2 linked regions of the Homo sapiens genome follow. The protein of the gene in region 1 purifies or fractionates together with the protein of each later gene. This does not show direct contact. Each region holds a gene or a part of one and is shown on either strand. Other genes may lie near its edges. The genes, in order: DECR2 and SESTD1.

What was found.
Region 2: the proteins of DECR2 (region 1) and SESTD1 purify together in Homo sapiens (affinity purification with mass spectrometry; 2 studies listed by BioGRID and IntAct, with this or other methods). This does not show direct contact.

What each region holds. Positions count from the first base shown.
Region 1 is NC_000016.10:401,295-411,884, forward strand, and holds the start of DECR2 (peroxisomal 2,4-dienoyl-CoA reductase [(3E)-enoyl-CoA-producing]), read left to right. Parts: upstream 1-590; 5' UTR 591-669; coding exon 670-749; intron 750-3,661; coding exon 3,662-3,730; intron 3,731-5,051; coding exon 5,052-5,103; intron 5,104-6,130; coding exon 6,131-6,266; intron 6,267-8,948; coding exon 8,949-9,073; intron 9,074-9,396; coding exon 9,397-9,490; intron 9,491-9,677; coding exon 9,678-9,782; intron 9,783-10,066; coding exon 10,067-10,284; intron 10,285-10,590.
Region 2 is NC_000002.12:179,099,869-179,110,113, reverse strand, and holds the end of SESTD1 (SEC14 domain and spectrin repeat-containing protein 1), read left to right. Parts: intron 1-85; coding exon 86-215; 3' UTR 216-8,436; downstream 8,437-10,245. UniProt on the Homo sapiens protein: May act as the primary docking protein directing membrane turnover and assembly of the transient receptor potential channels TRPC4 and TRPC5.

The sequences.
Region 1 (10,590 bases):
ACCCGCCACAATGCCCGGCTAATTTTTGTATTTTTAGTAAAGAGGGGGTTTCGCCATGTTGTCCAGGATGGTCTCGAACTCCTGACCTCGTGATCCGCCCGCCTCGGCCTCCCAAAGTGTTGGGATTACAGGCGTGAGCCACCGCGCCCGGCCCCGGACCCTTCTTTATTGGCCTCAAAACGGGTCATTTTGGGAAGCGGCGCGGGGCTGGCCGCGCTTCCCTGGGCCCCGGCCCTCCCCATGGTGTTTACGGGGAGGCGAACGGGGAGCCCAGAGGCTGCGAGCCTGGCCTGGACCCAGGAGCCAGGGGTATCCCACAAGTCCTGGAGGCTCTGAACGCGGCGCTGACGCCGAATACCTGTGAAAAAGACTCGGGGAGGAGACCCGCAGACCGCCGAGCTTCTGCCGCGGGAACCGCGCCCCCGGCCCCGCAATGCGCCTGCGCCTCGCGCGCCGACTTCCAGTCCCAGCAGGCCGCGGGCGGGGGCGGGGCCTCCGGGGAGAATTCGGGGGAGGGGCGGGGCCTCCGGGAAGCAATCAGGGCAGGGGCGGGGCGTCCGGGGAGTGGGGCGGGGCTCCCGGTTCCAGGCGAGTTCGCAGCTGCGCGCCGGGTCCTGGAGGCCGAGGCCGCTCCCGCCCGTTGTCCCCGCAGTCCCCGACGGGAGCGCCATGGCCCAGCCGCCGCCCGACGTGGAGGGGGACGACTGTCTCCCCGCGTACCGCCACCTCTTCTGCCCGGACCTGCTGCGGTGAGCGGGGCCTGGGAAGCGAGCGCAGCCTTGGTGCGGGGTCCGGTCCGCGGGCGCCGGCGCCCCCACGTGGTCCCCGAGGGCTCGCGTGTTAGGAAACCTGTCTTGCCTGGCTCCTTTCTTTCTTTTTTCTTTCTTTTTTTTTTTTTGAGACGGAATCTCGCTGTGTCGCCCAGGCTGGAGTGCAGTGGCACGATCTCCGCTCACTGCAAACTCTGCCTCCCGGGTTCAAGCGATTCTCCTGCCTCAGCCCGGCTAATTTTTATTTTTAGTAGAGAGGGGGTGTCACCGTGTTGGTCAGGCTCTTTTCGAACTCCTGACCTCAGGTGATCCACCCGCCTCGGCTTCCCAAAGTGCTGGGATTTACAGGCGTGAGCCACCGCGCCCGGCCCAACCTGGCCTCTTTCTTAACAGAAAATTTTAGGTTGAAATCATTTTTCCGGAAGACCCAGAAGGCCCAGGAATGCCAGGTTTTGCCCAGCAGCTCTTCATTTTCCTGCAAACGCCTTGGTGTTCACAAGAGAAGGCAGCCCGGGCAAAGGTCGATCCTCCCCGGTCACCTGCCCTCACTCGGCTAATGGGCGGATCCTTTTTTTTTTTTCCTTTTCTTTTTTTCAATTGGCAACATTTTCAAGTTTCTATTAAAATTTTGATCTTTTGCCAGGAGCAGTGGCTCACGCCTGTAATCCCAGCTCTTTGGGAGGCCGAAGCGGGTAGATCACCAGAGGTCAGGAGTTCGAGACCAGCCTGGCCAACATGGTGAAACCCCGTCTCTGCTAAAAATACAAAAAATTAGCCGGGTGTGGTGGCGCACACCTGTAATCCCAACTACTTGGGAGGCTGAGGCAGGAGAATCACTTGAACTCGGGAGGTGGAGGTTGCAGTGAGCCGAGATCGCACCATTGCACTGGGCAACAAGAGTGAAACTCCATCTCAAAAAAAGAAAACAAGTTTTAAATTATGTTCTCCAAGGACAGGTATTGACAATTCTCTCTGAGTGTTCTGCAGGAAAAAAAAAAAGTTTTTTTTCGAAACGGAGTCTCATTCTGGGTTGAAGCAATTCTCCTGCCTCAGCCTCCCAATTCTCCTGCTTCAGCCTCAGTGCGCCCAAGTGGGACTATAGGCACACAATACCACGCTGGGCTAATTGTATTTCTAGTAGAGGTGAGTGTCACCATGTTGGTCAGGCTGGTCTGGAACTCCTGACCTCAGATGATCCACCTGCCTCGGCCTCCCAAAGTGCTGGGATGACAGGAGTGAGACGCTGCACCTGGCCCAAAATTAATCTTTAATAATTAAGAATAGGAAAGGCAACTTGGAGATCAGCAAAAGTTTGCCATCCATCTGGTACAGTTTGTGCCAGTCATACCGATCAGTACACATTTAATGCGTACAAGAAAATCTCTAATAAATAAAAAAGCCATATTATCCCGACGTAGCTTGCTGAATCTCAGGTATCATATTTGATATTAGTGCCATGCAGGGCTTAGGAGAGAGGAAATTATAACCTCTATCTTGTTTAAGCCAGGGTATTTTTCTCTCTTGTATCTACTTCTGTCCATTTCTGTCAAAAGACACAGAAATACCCTTTCCCCCACTGCACTTTGCAAGTTTGTGTCAGCACAAGTTCAGGACCAGCCTGAGCAACAAAACGATACCCCTCTCTAGAAAAACTAGATGAAAAATTAGCTGGGCACTCTGGCATGCACCTGTAGTCCCAGCTACTGGGGAGGCTGAAGCAGGAGGATCCTTCTAGCCCAAGAGGTCAAGGCGGCAGTGAGCCGTGATGGTGCCACTGCACTCCAACCTGGATGACGTAGCAAGAACCTGTCTCAAAATAAATAAATAGGCCCGGTGTGGTGGCTCATGCCTGTAATCCCAGCACTTTGGGAGGCCGAGGTGGGTGGATCACAAGGTCAGGAGATCGAGACCATCCTGGCTAACACGGTGAAACCTCATCTCTACTAAAAATACAAAAAATTAGCTGGGCGTGGTGGCAGGTGCCTGTAGTCCCAGCTACTCTGGAGGCTGAGGCAGGAGAATGGTGTGAACCTGGGAGGAGGAGTTTGCAGTGAGCCTAGATCATGCCACTGCACTCCAGCCTGGGCGACAGAGCGAGACTCCATCTCAAAAAAAATAAAAAATAAATAAATAAATTAAATAAAATACTATAATTTTATGAATTTTCATTTTATTTATTTATTTATTTTTTAAGACCATGTTTCGCTCTTGTTGCCCAGGCTGGAGTGCAATGGCGCAATTTTGGCTCACCACAACCTCCGCCTCCTGGGTTCAAGTGATTCTCCTGCCTCAGCCTCCCAAGTAGCTGGGATTACAGGCATGCACCACCACACCCGGCTAATTTTTTATATTTTTAGTAGAGACGGGGTTTCTCCATGTTGGTCAGGCTGGTCTCGAACTCCCGACCTCAGGTGATCCGCCCGCCTTGGCCTCCTAAAGTGCTGTGATTAGAGGTGTGAGCCAAGGCACCTGGCCGAATTTTCATTTTAAATCATTGCCGTATAGCAATATGGGAGGTGTATTTTAACAGGGCTCTTTTATTTTTTATTTATTTTTATTTTATTTTATTTATACATATTTTTTGAGACGGAGTCTTGCTCTTTTGCCCAGGCTGGAGTGCAGTGGTGCGATCTCGGCTCACTGCAACATCTGCCTCCCGGGTTCAAGCTATTCTCCTGCCTCAGCCTCCCAAGTAGCTAGGACTACAGGCACCCACCACCACGCCCAGCTGATTTTTGTATTTTTAGTAGAGACGAGGTTTTACCATATTGTCCAAGCTGGTCTCGATCTCCTGACCTTGTGGCCCACCCACCTTGGCCTTCCAAAGTGCTGGGAGCCACCGGCCCGGCCCAATAGGGCTCTTTTAAAAGAGCCTCCTTTTTTATTCTCAGGGACAAAGTGGCCTTCATCACAGGAGGCGGCTCTGGGATTGGGTTCCGGATTGCTGAGATTTTCATGCGGTGAGACTGCTCTGTGTCCCTTCCCTGCTCCTCGCTTCTCCCTGCCCGGGCCCTGCTGGATGCCCGACCCCTGGAAAGATGTTGGTGGGAGGTAGATGTCCCCTGCTCACCTACCCGACAGGATCCAGGTGCCTGCCAGAGGGACTGGGGAGCGGTCGAGGATTGCCCTGGGGGGAGTCAGGACTTCAAGGCCCCTACAGGTCAGTGGAGATTGTGTGGCTCTGGTCTGGGGCCTGCTGGGACCTCGAGAGTCAGGGCTGTGTCGGGCCCCAGTGCTGGCGCCCTGCAGAGCACATTTTCTCCTGGGACACAATTCTGTGGCTTCAGGCCAGGGTCAGCAACTTATCCCACCTGACAGTGGCTAGAGTTAGGCTGGGGTGGGGGAAAGGGACCCTTCCTCAGTTCCCCTGAGGCCCCTGCTTTTCAGACCAAAAAGGTGAGTCCCACAGGAAGAGATATGGCCTTTCCACTGGTGGCTTTGTGCTCAGGGCATCTGAGGACCAGATGGGACATTGCAGCTCCAGTGGGACCTGCCTAGCAGGGGTAGCTACCTTTATGGTTATTGTGGGCAAGCAACCCCCGAACCAGAAGAGCCGAGAAACCAAAGAACAAGGCAGACAGATCCCGTTTGTCTGTGTCAGGTGATTTTACCAGGGAATTTGTGGGCAGAAGCGTAGTCTTGGGTGGCTGTGAGACGGGCGTCTCCATGCTGTTACCCCCAGGCCCAGGGCTTCTATACCACAGGGAAAGGGGTCCTGCTTCAGAGGGAGTGTGTAGGAATTTGTTTAGGATAACATCAAGGTGGTTTTGACCTAAAGGCAGGACTTCTTTGTGCTCTTTCGCAAGAACAGTAGATAAGCTGGAAATCCTAGCGGCATTCCTGGAACCAGGGTTCATAGAGGCCAACGTGGTGGATTCGCATCCACGTGGTCAGGAAGGGGAGCAGGGAGCACCCCGCTTCAGAACAGTCCTCCACGCCAGCCCCACAGGGAGAAGGGGGTGGAGAATGTGGGCCCAGCAGGCCCCAGGCAGATGTGTGGGCTGGGCGTCTGTGGCTCACAGCTGTCTCTGTACCTGGTGTTTGGGGCAGGACCCGCAGGCCTGTGCGGTGGGATGTCCCATGCCAGAAACCCCGGGGTGGGCACCACCTGAGGTCCCTCCAGAGTACCTCAGTCCTGTTCACGCCCCTGTGCCCTCTGCCAGCTGGGCCTTCAGCCTGGACTGGTACTTCCGCCTGAGAGACTCCTGCTCAGGAGCTGGGCAGATGCCCCGGGAGTGCCCCTCGCCCACACTGCCCTCACACCTGCTTCTGGTTTTGCAGGCACGGCTGCCATACGGTGATTGCCAGTAGGAGCCTGCCGCGAGTGCTGACGGTGAGAGGGCCTCTCCCATGGTCCCCTGTTCGGGTGGCTGTGGGGGGGCTGGGGCTGGGCCTGGGCCAGGAGAGTCCAGAGGCTATGGGGATGTTGGCACCAAAACTTTTTTTTTCTGAGACGGGAGTCTCGCTCTGTCACCCAGGCTGAAGTGTGGTGGTGCGATCTCGGCTCACTGCAGCCTCCACCTCCCAGGATCAAGCGATTCTCCTGCCTCAGCCTCCGGAGTAGCTGGGACTACAGGTGCCCGCCACCACGCCTGGCTAATTTTTGCATTTTTTTGGTAGAGATGGGTTTTCACCACGTTGACCAGGCTGGTCTCGAATTCCTGACCTCAGGTGATCCGCCCACCTCAGCCTCCCAAAGTGCCAGGATTACAGGTGTGAACCACTGTGCCCGGCCGGCACCTCAGCCTCCCAAAGTGCCAGGATTACAGGTGTGAATCACTGTGCCCGGCCGGCACCTCAGCCTCCCAAAGTGCCAGGATTACAGGTGTGAACCACTGTGCCCAGCCGGCACCAAAACTTGCACCTATCCTAAATATGGAGCTTCAGTGTAAGTGGCCTCCCAGAGACATCTTTGACTTTTTAAAAAATCTAGTTATTGGGTTCTGGGAGGGACCTTCCTGTTTGGGGGTAATGTGGCCCCAAGAAAGACCTCTGGGCTCACCTGGGTTATTTAGGTGGTCCGTGCGTCCCACCTACTGGAGCCCTCGACCTGGGAGGAGAGTCTCACCTGTGCCACCTCTGGTCTGCAGCAGGGGCAGGACATGGGTGACAGTGGCCTGGAGGGCGACGCAGAGGGAGGATTCTAGGACAGGTGGCAGGTGGGGGGAGAGCGTGGCAGGTTCCCACAAACATCCACTGGGGTCGTGGGCACTTGCAGGCTGTGCTTCCCCAGAGTGGGGTCCAGCAGCAAACCCAGGGTCCCCGAGGAACCCGGAAGCATCGTCCTCTGCAGATTCCAAAGGCCTTTTCTCCAGGCCGAGGCTGCAGGGCTGCTGTCTGCCTCTTTACCTGGCTTCTAGGCCGCCAGGAAGCTGGCTGGGGCCACCGGCCGGCGCTGCCTCCCTCTCTCTATGGACGTCCGAGCGCCCCCAGCTGTCATGGCCGCCGTGGACCAGGCTCTGAAGGAGTTTGGCAGAATCGACATTCTCATTAACTGTGAGTCGGTGCTGAGTGAGGTTGGTGGCTTCTCACAGGTTGGTGGTACCATTTGGAGGCCCTAGAACTCTGGTCATGGGGTGGGGACCATGCCAGGGAACCTAGCTGCCTGTGCTGGGGTGGGCTGCACCCCATCCAGGTACCTGAGGCCAAGACTCAGGCTCCGGCCCCCTGTCTCCGGCCCCATCTCCGGCCCCCTGTCTCCGGGCCCCTGTCTCCGGGCCTCTGTCTCCGGGCTCTGTCTCCGGGCCTCTGTCTTCGGCCGCATCTCCGGCCCCCTGTCTCTGGGCCTCTGTCTCCGGGCGTCTCTCTCCGGCCCCATCTCCGGCCCCCTGTCTCCGGGCCTCTGTCTCCGGCCCCATCTCCGGCCCCCTGTCTCCGGGCCCCTGTCTCCAGGCCTCTGTCTCCGGCCCCCTGTCTCCGGGCCCCTGTCTCCGGGCCTCTGTCTCCGGCCCCCTGTCTCCGGGCCCCTGTCTCCGGGCCTCTGTCTCCGGCCCTCTGTCTCCGGGCCCCTGTCTCCGGGCCCCTGTCTCCAGCCCCCTGTCTCCGGACCTCTGTCTCCGGGCCCCTGTCTCCGGGCCTCTGTCTCCGGCCCCCTGTCTCCGGGCCTCTGTCTCCGGGCCTCTGTCTCCGGCCCCCTGTCTCCGGCCCCCTGTCTCCGGGCCTCTGTCTCCGGGCCTCTGTCTCCGGCCCCCTGTCTCTGGGCCTCTGTCTCCGGCCCCATCTCCGGCCCCCTGTCTCCGGGCTTCTGTCTCTGGCCCTCTGTCTCTGGCCCTCTGTCTCCAGGCCTTTGTGTCCCGCCTTCTGTCTCTGGCCCTCTGTCTCCGGCCTGACTCCGCTTCTCTGGGTGGCAGCAGGTCAGCACAGCTGCAGCCCAAGTGGACGCCATGAACACAGCTCAATGGTAGAGTCGGGTGCCCTTGTGTCCTGAAATTCCGTCTTTAAAAAAAAAAGTAATAGCCTTTTTTTTTTTTTTAGACAGCATCTCACTCTGTCACCCAGGCTGGTGTGATCATGGCTTACTGCAGCCTCCACCTTCTGGGCTCAAGCCATCCTCCTGCCCCAGCCTCCTGAGGAGCTGGGACTACAGACGTGTGCCATCACGCCTGGCTAATTTTTATATTTTTTATTTTTTGTAGAGACAGGGTCTTAGTGTGTGTTGCTCAGGCCAGTCTCAAACTCCTAGGCTCAAGCAATCTTCCTGCCTTGGCCTCCCAAAATGCTGGGATTACAAGCAAGAGTCATCAATAAAATAGAAGCTAGCCTGGCCTAGCTTTTTTTTTTTTTTTAGAGGGAGTTTCGCTCTTGTTGCCCAGGCTGGAGTACCATGGTACAATCTCAGCTTACAGCACCCTCCGCCTCCCGGGTTCAAGCAATTCTCCCGTCTCAGCCTCCCAAGTAGCTGGGATTACAGGCGCCCGCTACCACACCTGGCTAATTTTTGTATTTTTAATAGAGATGGGGTTTCATCATATTGTTTAGACTGGTCTCGAACTCTTGATCTCAGGTGATCCGCCCGCCTTGGCTTCCGAAAGTGCTGGGATTACAGGCGTGAGCCGCCGCGCCTGGCCCCCAGCTTTTATTTTTATTTCTTTATTTTTTATTTTTATTGATTTTTATTTTTATTTTTTGAGAGAGTCTTGCTGTGTCGCCCAGGCTGGAGTGCAGTGGCGCAATCTTGGCTCACTGCAAGCTCCGCCTCCCGGGTTCATGCCATTCTCCTGCCTCAGTCCCCCAGTAGCTGGGACTACAGGTGCCTGCCACCACGCCTGGCTAACTTTTTGTATTTTTACTAGAGATGGGGTTTCACCATGTTAGCCAGGATGGTCTCGATCTCCTGACCTCGTGATCCGCCCGCCTCAGCCTCCCAAAGTGCTGGGATTACAGGCGTGAGCCACCACGCCTGGCCGATTTTTTTTTTTAAATCACAGTTTTAGGTTTATAGAATAATTAATAGTATATGGAATTCCATACTCCCACCTACAGTTTTCCCTGTTAACATCTTGCGTTTGTTACAATTGATGAACCAACACTGGTTTCACTCTGCAGAAATTCCCTTTTAAAAACATCCTGTGTATTAGTTTCCTGGGCTAACAGAGTACTACGACCTGTGTGGGTAAAACAACCGAAATATAATCTCCCAGTTCTGGAGGCCAGAACGTCCAAGGGGAAGGCGTCGGCAGAGCTATGCTCTCTGAAGGCCCCAGGGGAGAGCCTCTTCCTGCCTTCTGCGTGGCTTCGGGTACTGCCATAGCCCTTGGCCCTCCCGGGCTCGGAGACCGTCGCTGCACTGTCTGCCACTGTCTTCCCGTGGCGTGTGTCTGTGTGTCCTCTTCCCTTGTTATAAGGATGCTGGTCATTGGATTTAGGGCTCACCCTAATTCGTTGTGACTTCAGTGTAATTCGATTATCTCTGCAACCCACCCCATTTCCAAACAAGGCCACAGTCGCAGGTACGGAGCCAGGGCTTCAGCATGTCTTCTCTTCTCGGGGACACAGTGCAGCCAGGACGCCCGTCTTGCTCTGGTCATTTTGGAATTTATCCTAGGGCATGGGTCTCCTCCCTGTGCCACAGGGCACCTGGGCTCCCTCCTGCACCCTCCGCTCTGCCCACCTGGCCACCACCCACTTGGCATCCCTCTCCCCAGGCTCCAGCAGCTCCTGCGGTCTCCCATTCTGCAGGTGCGGCCGGGAACTTCCTGTGCCCCGCTGGCGCCTTGTCCTTCAACGCCTTCAAGACCGTGATGGACATCGATACCAGCGGCACCTTCAATGTGTCTCGTGTGCTCTATGAGAAGTTCTTCCGGGTGGGTGCCTCGTGCGCTCTGTGAGAAGTTCTTCCGGGTGGGTGCCTCGTGCGCTCTGTGAGAAGTTCTTCCGGGTGGGTGCCTTGTGCGCTCTGTGAGAAGTTCTTCCGGGTGGGTGTACTCCCAGCGGGGGCCTCCCCCTGACGGCCGCCCGCTCCCTGCCCTGGGCCTCCCCATGACGGCCGCCCGCTCCCTGCCCTGGGCCTCCCCCTGACGGCCGCCCGCTCCCTGCCCCGGGCCTCCCCCTGACAGCCACCCGCTCACTGTCCTGTGACCTCCCCCGACACCCGCCCGCTCACTGCCCCGGGCCTTGTGTGTTGCAGGACCACGGAGGGGTGATCGTGAACATCACTGCCACCCTGGGGAACCGGGGGCAGGCGCTCCAGGTGCATGCAGGCTCCGCCAAGGCCGCTGTGGGTATGACCACCCCCCCCCGCCCAGGTTTGCCCACGTGGGTCCCCAATGGGCCGTCTGCTTCCATCCCAGGAGGCCAGCAGTCTCCACTTGAAGCTGAGCCCAGCTGCAGGCAGCGAGACCTGGCCTTGGCCCTGCGCCCTCGCAGAGGGCAGAGCGGCCCTTTCATATCCAACTTTCTTCTGTGCAGACGCGATGACGCGGCACTTGGCTGTGGAGTGGGGTCCCCAAAACATCCGCGTCAACAGCCTCGCCCCTGGCCCCATCAGTGGCACAGAGGGGCTCCGGCGACTGGGTAAGGCTCTCAGGGAGCCCAGGCCTCCCACAGATCCTCTCCTGGGGCACAGGGTGCCCATGAAGCTTCCAGAACCTTGGCAGGGTGTATGTTGAAAAGCCCTGTGCTGGTTCCATGGTGGCAACTATGTTCTGTGCCTGGCCTGATCCTGCTCCATGCTAGGCCTTGGTGACACTGACTGTGTCCTTGCTGTTCCCAGATGCCTCTCAGGGAATGAGCTGGGGGAGAGGGGAGGGTGCTGGGTCTTGGGGCTCACGGGGCCTGAGCCTTCTGCTGCCCTCCAGGTGGCCCTCAGGCCAGCCTGAGCACCAAGGTCACTGCCAGCCCGCTGCAGAGGCTGGGGAACAAGACCGAGATCGCCCACAGCGTGCTCTACCTGGCCAGCCCTCTGGCTTCCTACGTGACGGGGGCCGTGCTGGTGGCCGATGGCGGGGCATGGTTGACGTTCCCAAACGGTGTCAAAGGGCTGCCGGATTTCGCATCCTTCTCTGCTAAGCTCTAGGTGAGGTACTGCTCCCGCTTCTTGGGGTCATCTGTGTCCTTGGACGCTGGTCACTGCATGGGCAGGTCTCTGCGGGACCCACGGGGCTGGCGTCTCCTTTGTCCCCATCCTCCCGGCCCCTGCGCCAGCCTGCCCACACATGGGTGCTGCCCAGTGGGGCTGAGCAGGAGGCGGGCGCTGGTGTACTTGCTCTTCTGTAGCGGCCTCGGCCTCTGCCGGCATTTCTGGCAGGTGCTGGGTGGCCGAGGCAGCCGAGGTGTTTTAGGGGGAAGCCGTCCTCAGCCGGCTACTAAGTTCTGAAACTCC
Region 2 (10,245 bases), on another chromosome or scaffold:
TGGTAAATTTTTGCTTCTATTTGTATTCACTGCAGTTAATAGATTTGTATTAATCTGAGGTTTTTCTGTGTGTTTTGATTTTTAGAACCGAACAATATTTTGGGAGTCCAAGTGACATGGCTTCTACTGCAGAAAACATCAGAGACAGGATGAAACTAGTTAATCTCAAAAGGCAGCAGCTGAGACATCCTGAAATGGTGACCACAGAGAGCTAATAGCTACCAGCTACCTACAGATTTGCAGTTCATAATCCCGCATGTTGTCAACATACTACAGCATTAGCCACCACACCTTAAGATGCATTTCACAGCCAAAATAAGTCTCATTTCTTTTCATGACACATTTCTCTTTACATGTTAACACCTTGCTACTACCAAGGCATAATTACTTAACATGCTTCGAGGCTGTAGATTCCAAGTATCTTAAAAGAAGGAACTATAAACATTGCACTGAAAACTTGCTTTAAAGCTTTACCTGACCTGTCAGTTTGTAGACAAACAACTGATAATAAGCTTTGAATGGTGCTAATAAGAGTAGGAATTCTCTCTATTAAAAAGAAAAAAAAAAGTTGCCCTTCCTCCACAGGTGATTTAGTAAATTTAGACAGTAGTTAAACTCTTGTTAGTAGACAGTGGTGTCCTCAAAATTTTACTTTGTAATTCTTCAGAATTGATTATTTTTATTGTGTCAATACAGAGAAAGCCTTTCAGATCTTTGATATATCATAGTCATTAAAAGACCTTTTCCTATTTGTATTGATAATGTATTAAAAGTTGTTTGTGCTTAATAAAAGACTTCTTTAAACATCTTATTTAATTTAGTAGTTACATCCTATTTCCAAACATGAGTGCCTTATTTAAAAGGGCATTCTTAGGACTGTGAGGATGGTTTAATATTTGTTTTTTCATGGTGGTTGCATGTATTTTAGACAGGAAATACATATGTAAGCATGTGTATATAATAAATAAGCATGTTTTATCATGAAAAATTATTGTGAACAATTTAGATCTTTAAGAACTTATTAATAATGGAATACTATTTCTAATTTTTCTCTTTTTCAACTTGAAAAATATTCTCAAAATTATTAACTACCCTGAAGATACTTTGTCTTTAGGGGAGGAGGGCTGAGGAAGAAGGCATACATAATTACTTCAGTGTAATCCTTTATATCAGAGTAATCTTTCAGGAACTAAAATAGCAATTGTTAATAAAATTTAGTTTCTCATTATAGTCTAAAAGCAAAATAAATTCTGAAGTAGTCCAATAACAGAACTGTATGACCCCTTTAGAAATAAAATTTATCATGAAATGCTAGTTCTTTTAAGTTTGTATTAAGTTTAAATGGTAAAATGCATATAATTTAAATTTTATGTATTTTTATTTCAGAACATTTTTTAAAATATTAAAAATTATTTTTTAGTCTTGTAGTCATTACAAAATTATAAACGAGTTGTATACTGGTTCCTTTTTGAGGTCTACAAACATGCTCGTGTATCTTCCAATGCAAAAAAAAAACCCCTCCCTTTTAACCTGCTAGTTTTTCCAGCCTTCTTCACTGACTGACAGACTTCTTGGAGAAATCCACATCCAGTGCCCCTACATCCTCATCACTCACTACTCAGCACCTTGCAGTCTGGTTTTACACAGCACTCTACTGAAACTGTTCTTTTGAAAGTCAGCAATGGCCTCCCAGTTACCAAACTGAATGGTTTTTTTCTCCGTCTGAATCCCTTACCCTTTTCTCTGCAACATTTACACCATTGAGCAACCTTTCCTAGACAGTGTCTCCTTCCTTGAAGATGCTATCCTCTGAAATAACTGTGAGTACAGTCGCATAACCCTAATTTAAGATGTGCCTGCTGAACATGTGCTCTCTCAGATCCTGTCCTCAGAATGCTTTTGGCTCTTTTCTCGGTATCTCATCCTTAGAGTTTTTATTTTATACCAATGTTCTGGATTACATACCTGGTCCAGAAATCTAGACTTGTACTTCTTTTTAATTGCCTAGTTGACATTTCAACCTTGATTAAAGATTGACAATATTTATCACCTTTTCCTCCTGGAACAATTTAGGTTAATGGTGCAGCCTTTTTTCCTAGTCAAACATGCCAGGAAGTTCAGGGCAAAGTTCAACTGCTCCCTCTTGTCTTATGTGGTCACTGCTTCTGAGAACATCCAGGAAGTTCTTTCTATACTTGAATCATCTTCTCAGTCCTTTGGGGCTTTACTGCTATGAGTATGAACTTTTGTGATTATTTATTTCAGTCTTCATGATGGTGCTATCACATTCTACAGTTGTTTATGTCTGTACCCAGTAAGCTCTTTTGAGGGAAGGAATCTTGTCTTCTCCTATTCCCAGTCTTGCTCATGCATAACAGATGCCCATTCCTCCTAAATATGAATGCTGTATTATAGGCATTAGTAATAATCCCTGTTACATTGCAGTCTGAAGTATGTTTTAAACATACTTTTTTAAAGTTAGAACTGACTTACAAGTGAATCTATTCTTAGATTCTTAGATACTAACTACTTTAGATATTTAGTTATACTCAATAACTAAATATCAATACTCAATATCTGTTTCTTCTGAATTTCAGAGTAGTTAGAATGTTTTTCTTAAGACTTTGCTAGAAAGGAACTGGTTTGTTAGTAATTCTGCCATCAACTCATGGAGTTATAATTGCCAAATGAGTTAATTTTTATATACCTTAAGCTATCTTGCCTACAAAAAGTAAAATAAGGCAGGATTCATAAATGTTACTTGTAAATTGAGTGTTTCACATGAGGCCAAGTATGATTTTAACATAATGAATATCATTGCTCCTCATCTGTAAATTTGCTGCTGCTTTCATATGTGTATCTGTACATAGAGTTATGAATGAAAATCCAGTAATGCCCTAAAGCAACTTTCTTCCATAGGGTCAAAGCTCACTTAAGGTAAACGTGTGAAAAAAGTGACTGCAGTGTGTTTGAAACCACAAGCTGTTTCTATGTCATAAATTAACATCAGCTTGCAAGTCTCTGAAAGAACCACTCATTTGTAATTGGTATATATGTCACAACCTCCCACATTCCTTTAGCCCATCTCAGGGAATTATTGAAACGCTGGCAGGGTTAGTTTCATTTTGTTTTGGTTTTTTTGGGTTTTTTTGTTTGTTTGAGGATTTTTTTTTTCTTTTATCATTTGTTTGCTCCTGTGTAAGCTTAATATATAATGGCAGTTTGGCATCTGTTCTTCGCACATGTCTAACCCAGCAGAGTTATGCAAAAATGATGACTTCATTTTAGGTCAAATTGGCTTTGTTCCCAGTCCTCATTGTTGGTCACTTTGTTCAGTTCTGGTGACTCATTGGTGATGTTGATGAAACTGCTCAGCCTGCCAGCTGGGATATTGATGGCAGGTCTAGGCTTCATTGTTAGGTAGAAGATTGAATACTTCTCACTTTATACAAATTTACATTGGCTATTGCTCCCATGTGTTAGCTAGTCTTAACATGTTTGTTATTTCGTTATCTTATTAGCTGACATACGGAGTGGTATTATTAGTGTCGTACTCCTTAGCGTGAGCATGACAATTAAGTTACCTTACTAACAGTGATGAGTAAACCATACTCTGATCTAAACCCATTGTTACCAATGATGTGATTATGAAGTTAGCTGAATCTATGGTCTACATTTGAAGAAATAGTTCAGAATTCTCTACTACATTGTAAGTTACTTGCTAATAGAGATTGGGCATTATTATGTACTACTCCCCTTCTCACATCCTACCCAAAGTACACAAGGCCGTAGTAAAATACTGTTGCTACTAAAAACTAAACATACTGTGGTTGCTAATGTCCTTTACATCTTCAGCCTATAGGGAATGGTACAGGCAGAAACAAGCACCATTAAGTATATTATCATCAGTAGTGAGATCTGTATGATTAGGATATCTTTGCTTAAGCCCCCAAAGGAAAAATTCTCTAGCATTAAAAACATGGCTGGAACATAGCTAAGCAGTTAACCTAATTAGTAGACTTATTGTTAACGTTCAGTCCTAAAAATGAAAAGCTTCAGTTGGGAGTAGAAAATATACTATGCTGGTATATAGAGCAACAAATACCCTGATGAGATAAAATGAAGTAGAAACTTACCATTTGACATTATTTGACTTTCATACATGCTACTGAAAAGTCTAGGTTTAGCTAAGAAGCATAAATAATGGCAGTACTTGTAGAGGAAAGAACATACCAGCTAAAACAAGAACTGTAATGAATATAATGGAAAGTGTTTGGAGCTTGAATACTTGGCTTCAAAAATCTGGCTTTGCCATTTACTGTTAAAAAAATATCTGAGAATTTATCTCAGGCTGTAAAACAGAGAAGTCATACCAATTTCAAGAATAAAATATGATATAAAGAATTGTTGAAGCCAAAATATCCAGAAATAAACAGAATGGAAGGTATCATTGCTATAATTATCTTTTCAGAATAAAAAATAGAGTATTCTTTATCCTTTCTGTTGTCTCACATGACAAGCATGGGATGGTGAGGAAATGGCATATTGCCTATGTTCGCCGCCCCACCCCCTTAGTTCCACCACCCCTTCACCGTCACCCCCAGTTCACTAGTGTATCAGAATGCATCTTCAGAATTACACACTGAAGATACAAAAGGTCCAGTTGGTAAGCTCATCAGTAAATAACAAGGCTTTGAAATCTGACAAATTAGCTATTTTTGTAGGAAGATAATAGAACAGCAAGATGGAAGACAAGTGATGAGTATCATCTGTTTTGAGGTTGACAAGGTGTGACATAACCCTGTTAATAGACACAAGTAAAAGAAAATCATACTAGGATTGGATATTAGTGAGCGAGCACCGACCAGTAGAAACAACAACAGCATAAATCTGTTATTTAAGTATCCCAATAATGAGGTTAAAAAAAAAAAAAAAACAGAACAAAGCATGAAAAGACCACAATTAGTGCTGGCTATGCTTAGAGAGGAGCAGTCTCTTGGTAAACTCAGGCAGTGATGATGAACAGAAAATGGCCGACTGATACTGTAATAGAGGCATAGAACTAAGGACACTCCGTGAGCTGGCATAAATACAGGGGAGTCTTTAAGACTGAAAAAAGTTCATGGGTATGACACTTAATATGACTCAACATTACTGCAGAATTTTAAAGCAAACATGAAAGCTTGAGAATAAACACTAGTCCCTCTACTTCAAGAAAAAGCAGAACCTGTACTAGAACATGAAGAACTTAGAGATCAAAAGACAGCCAGAACTATGATGAAATATTTTGAAAGCAGTGGGCACATTTTTAAAGATTTTTTTTGGAGAACTTTATGAGGCTGTATGTATAATTCCTATATGTAATTTTATAGGAATTCTTAACTGAAAGTAGTTATCAACTGCTACTTATCAGGAGCAGTGTTATTAGGGATTTTAAGTTAGGCATGTAGAAAACTTTCTGACAAAAGGGCTATTGAACTCCAGCCAGTTCCCAGTGAATCTCCAGGAGGCACCTTAGAAGTCTTCACAAGCTGAATACCATGTCTTTAGGGTGTCCAAATGCTTCTGTCTTGGGGGAGAGATGAGAGATGACTGGGTGCCTTTCCACTCAGAACACAGTAGACCACTCACTATTTATGACCAAGCCTCACTTCTTTTCTATTACAGTTACAGATTCTTTTTTAGTCTGGAAGTTAGGGTAAATAAAATTTGTATGTTTGATTTTTCTCTTAGGAATGTTTTCTCATCTTAACTCTTATGTTATCTTTATGGCCAACAGATTTGCTCAGAATATATCATCAAAATATATGTATTGTATTTTGTAAAGGTGAAAGGATCGAAATACCACTTTGACAGTTATAAACCAGAGTAGATTTGAGAACTGATTGCTCACATCACACTTACGAATAGTCTCAGAAGCCTTTAAGAGAAACTTACTTCTCAATGGACACTTAGAAGAATTTGATGATCTTACTGTCATAAAATCAGTAATGAAATTCTCAGCAAAACTATTTGGTAAACATTGCACCCTGTATTTTTACCCAACATCTTGTTATGAAAATTATCAAATACATTAAAAAGTTAAAATAATTTTATAGTGTACTCACTACCTAGATGCTAATTAGCATTACCTATGCTTGCTTTGTCACATATCCATTCATCATTTCATATTATTATTTGATGCATTTTAAATTGCATATCATTAACTAGAGTTCATTGTTGGCTTTTTTACATAAAATTAGCATGCAATGAAGTGCATAGAAATATGTGTTCACTGAGGTTTGGCAAATGCATATAGTGCTATGGAAATAGGAAACGTTATCACCACCCTAGAAAGTTTCCACACTGCCCTTTCCAGTCAATTCCTGTCCCTACTTGACCCTCAAAGGCAACCACTGTTCCTTTTTCTACCATAAGATTTTTCTGTTCTAAAACTTTATATAAATAGAGTCACGCAACATGTACGCTTTTCTACAAGGCTTCATTTTTTTATTGCTGTTCTTTTTTATTGCTGAGTAGTATTCCACTGTATGACAATATTACAGTTTGTTTTCTTAATTTCCTATTATTGATAGATACCTGGGCTGTTTCCAGGATTGGCCATTATAAATAAAGCTGCTATGACCATTCTTACGTAAGTCTTTGTGAACATAGGTTTTCATTTCTTTGCAGTAAATTCCTTGGATTAGAATTGCTGGGTCACAGGGTAGTTTTAAAAGAAACTGCCATACCTTTTTCCAGTTCAGTTTTATTGTGCCCTGTATTTTGTATTTTGATGTGCATAAAGGTGTAAACTATTTTTATGATCCATATTGAAGTATTAGAAGAAGTGAGTTTGGAATAACAATGGCATTGTTCATGGTCAAGGATGACAATTGGAACTATCTGAGGAAAGCAAAGACCTGTCTGCCCCAGACAGCTCCTCAAGGGGTTCCTATGCCTGAAACTTTAGCAATATTTCACTCCTTGAAAGGTTAAAGCCCAACCATGGTGATATGTTAGCTAGAAGAAACAGCACTGGTTTGTTTATGTTACTAACTTTCACCACCCGTTTTCAGTAGGTAAAGTAAGACTGATCATTGAACAGAAAAGGTTATTTCTGTGATGAGGTTGAGGGGGTAGTGGAAAGCATGTATTGCTAGTAAGCCCCAGGTACAGCTATGTGAGAGAGAGTCACCTGGACAGGGAAGTCCCCCAAATGGTGGCCAGAAGAGCAGAAAACGGGGTGGGAAAAATTCTACCTCACAGTTTTGCATAGGGGATAGCTATGCTTTTACGGGACATTTTAGCGTTTAAAAATATTTTCAATATTGTCTCTTTATTCAATACCACCCAGCTGTAGTTTTTTCACACTCTGATGACTCTCTTATCCACTCTTTTACCTCTCCCAGCTGTTCTATTACATACAGCATTCACCTGTATTAGTCTATAGAATTATAATCATCTGTGTGTTTCTAATGCTCATTTTCAAAAATATGTATGGTTTATTCGATTTTTCCTATTAAAATTTTAAGGGCTGGGAAATTTGGCTTCTACTGTAAATCCTTATAATGTTCCACACATTGTAAATATGCAATAAAAATGTTAACAACTATAATGGCAGCAGGTTTTGGTATGTATTTCTTTGATATATTGTCACTTTGGACAATAAGTTTGATTTCTGTTAATAAAAGTTGTTCATAAAATCTAGGGAGAATTAAGTCACACTGGTCTCTATAAGATAATCTGATGAATTCTGCATCTTTGAATCAATTTGAGTTATTTTTTGTAAAGGTTTAAATTGTTTCTAACAGTGTTACCTAAAACCTTTCATTAAATCAAAAATGTAACTTGTATATTCTGAAATAACCTGGAGTCTTAGAAGACAGAGGCTTCTGCTTCCCTCTCCCGTGACCCCAACAATCCCTTCCCACAGGCTTGGCACAGAAGTTCAGTGCTTTCTCTACGTCTCATGTTGTCAGAAATAGGTTCTCACCATAATAGACAGTGGTGAAATTTCCATTGTTCCTACTGAGAAGTCCATTTTTAAGGCATCAAAGGTGAATGTGTATTTAGGGATGGAGGAGGCATATTACAACAAAGCTGTATTTAAAATAACACAATCATATCATGCTATAAACAATAGCAGTTCCAGAATGGCTACTAAGGATTTTGGACTGCCAGACTTTGGAAATTGGCAAGCCTTATACCTTGTCCAATGAAGTTAAGTACATTTGAGTGACAGTTCAACATACAAGCAAAAAAATATATAGAAGACATTGTACATTTGTTATTAATGGACATGTTTACTTTACATGTTAGAGTATCCATCCATCTCTAGGTTTTCCATTAGATGCTTCATTGTATCCACAAACCTGTTTCAAACCATTGAAGTGATCTTACCATTGTGTTTGTTCAAAATAAAATTGGGAGAAAATGTGAATGAGTCAATATCAACACTTGACATTCCTGTCTTTTTAATACATTTTATTCTTTTGTTTAGAAAATTTTCAGAATCGGAAAATCAGCTCTACTAATTGTCTACACATACACAAATACTAATAGTTGCATCCATCTGGGAGTCCTGTATTGATGGCAGTATCAGGCTTTCCTAGAATCTTCTGTTAGAACTGGGAACATATTTTCCCATAAAAAAATGATTAAAATGCAATTAGTCCTCTTCTTCAACTATATTATGGGTTATGCAAGCTACTGTAAGATGACCTAGAAATCTAGCATTAATTATATTACTGTATAAGTTAACAACTGACCTACCAATATATTTTTAGGATATATCCCACTCATTAGTTGGAAGCCACTCTTGTTCTAAGAAAATGTTTAGAACTCATAGACCATAAAGATGGTACTTAGGACATGAACATAGATTAAGTTTTGAAGGAGGACTATAGTTGCATTGTAGCCATGTAGTTAGAACTAGAATATGTGTTCTATACCAGTGGTTATCAAATATGAGTGTGCCTACAAATCAACTGGAAGTGTTACTAAAATGCAGATTCTGATTCAGTAAATCTGGGGTAGGACCAAAAGTTTTGCATTTTCAACAAGTTTCTAGCTGCTGCTGCTGCTGCCAGTCTGCAGACCACACTTCTGACTGCAAGATTCTAGAATACCTTTTATAAAAACTTCAATATATAAACTTTTCAGAGACAATGTCTGATCATCCTGCAAATTACCTAATTTCTCTAATTTGAATAGAAGAATACAGAGATGGCATTTTGGGAATTATATACTTATAGGGACTAGAGAAACCAAACATGTTTATGAAATTAACACGTTCTGAAAGATTAGCACATCCAATCTATGGTAAATTTTAGCAAATTCAAAACAGAGTGAAGCCTGAACTGTCATTTTCCAGCATCTCATCACTAAGGGAAGGTTGTTTTCAACTGGAAATAACTAATTCCTTTATGCTTTATTATTTAAATTTCTGTTTAAGAATAATGTGTAGTTATTATTTTTAAAGTACTCTAGTAAATAGAGAAAAATATAAAAAGTGAAAACTGCCCATTATTTATCAGTGCTGAGAACATAGTTAATATTTGATACATTTCCTTTGTATTTAACCTAACGAGTATGCTAGCATTCAACTTTATTTCCTGCTTTTTACAGCTATTATATCATAAAAAAATTATTAAACTTTTTTCCAGTTTAAGTCAATAGCTGTGTAATAGTCAATAATATGTAAATACCATGATTTAACTATTAAACTATTAGGTGAAACATTTAGTTTCTTTCTCTTTCTTTCTTAACGGTACTATAAGTAATGCTGCAATGAACATCCTTGCTCTTAACTTTTTGACAGCATCTCTCCTTGGGATTGATTCCTGAAAGTAGAAATATTGGATTGGAATGTATGCATATTTTGAGGCTTTTAATAGATATGGCCAAATTGCTTTCCAGAAGGTTAGGTAGATGTATGTGTCTGTTAACAGTTAGGGTGCCTGATAGACTGGATTAAGAAAATGTGGCACATATACACCATGGAATACTATGCAGCCATAAAAAATGATGAGTTCATGTCCTTTGTAGGGACATGGATGAAATTGGAAATCATCATTCTCAGTAAACTATCGCAAGGACAAAAAACCAAACACCGCATGTTCTCACTCATAGATGGGAATTGAACAATGAGAACACATGGACACAGGAAGGGGAACATCACACTCTGGGGACTGTTGTGGGGTGGGGGGAGGTGGGAGGGATAGCATTAGGAGATATACCTAATGCTAAATGACAAGTTAATGA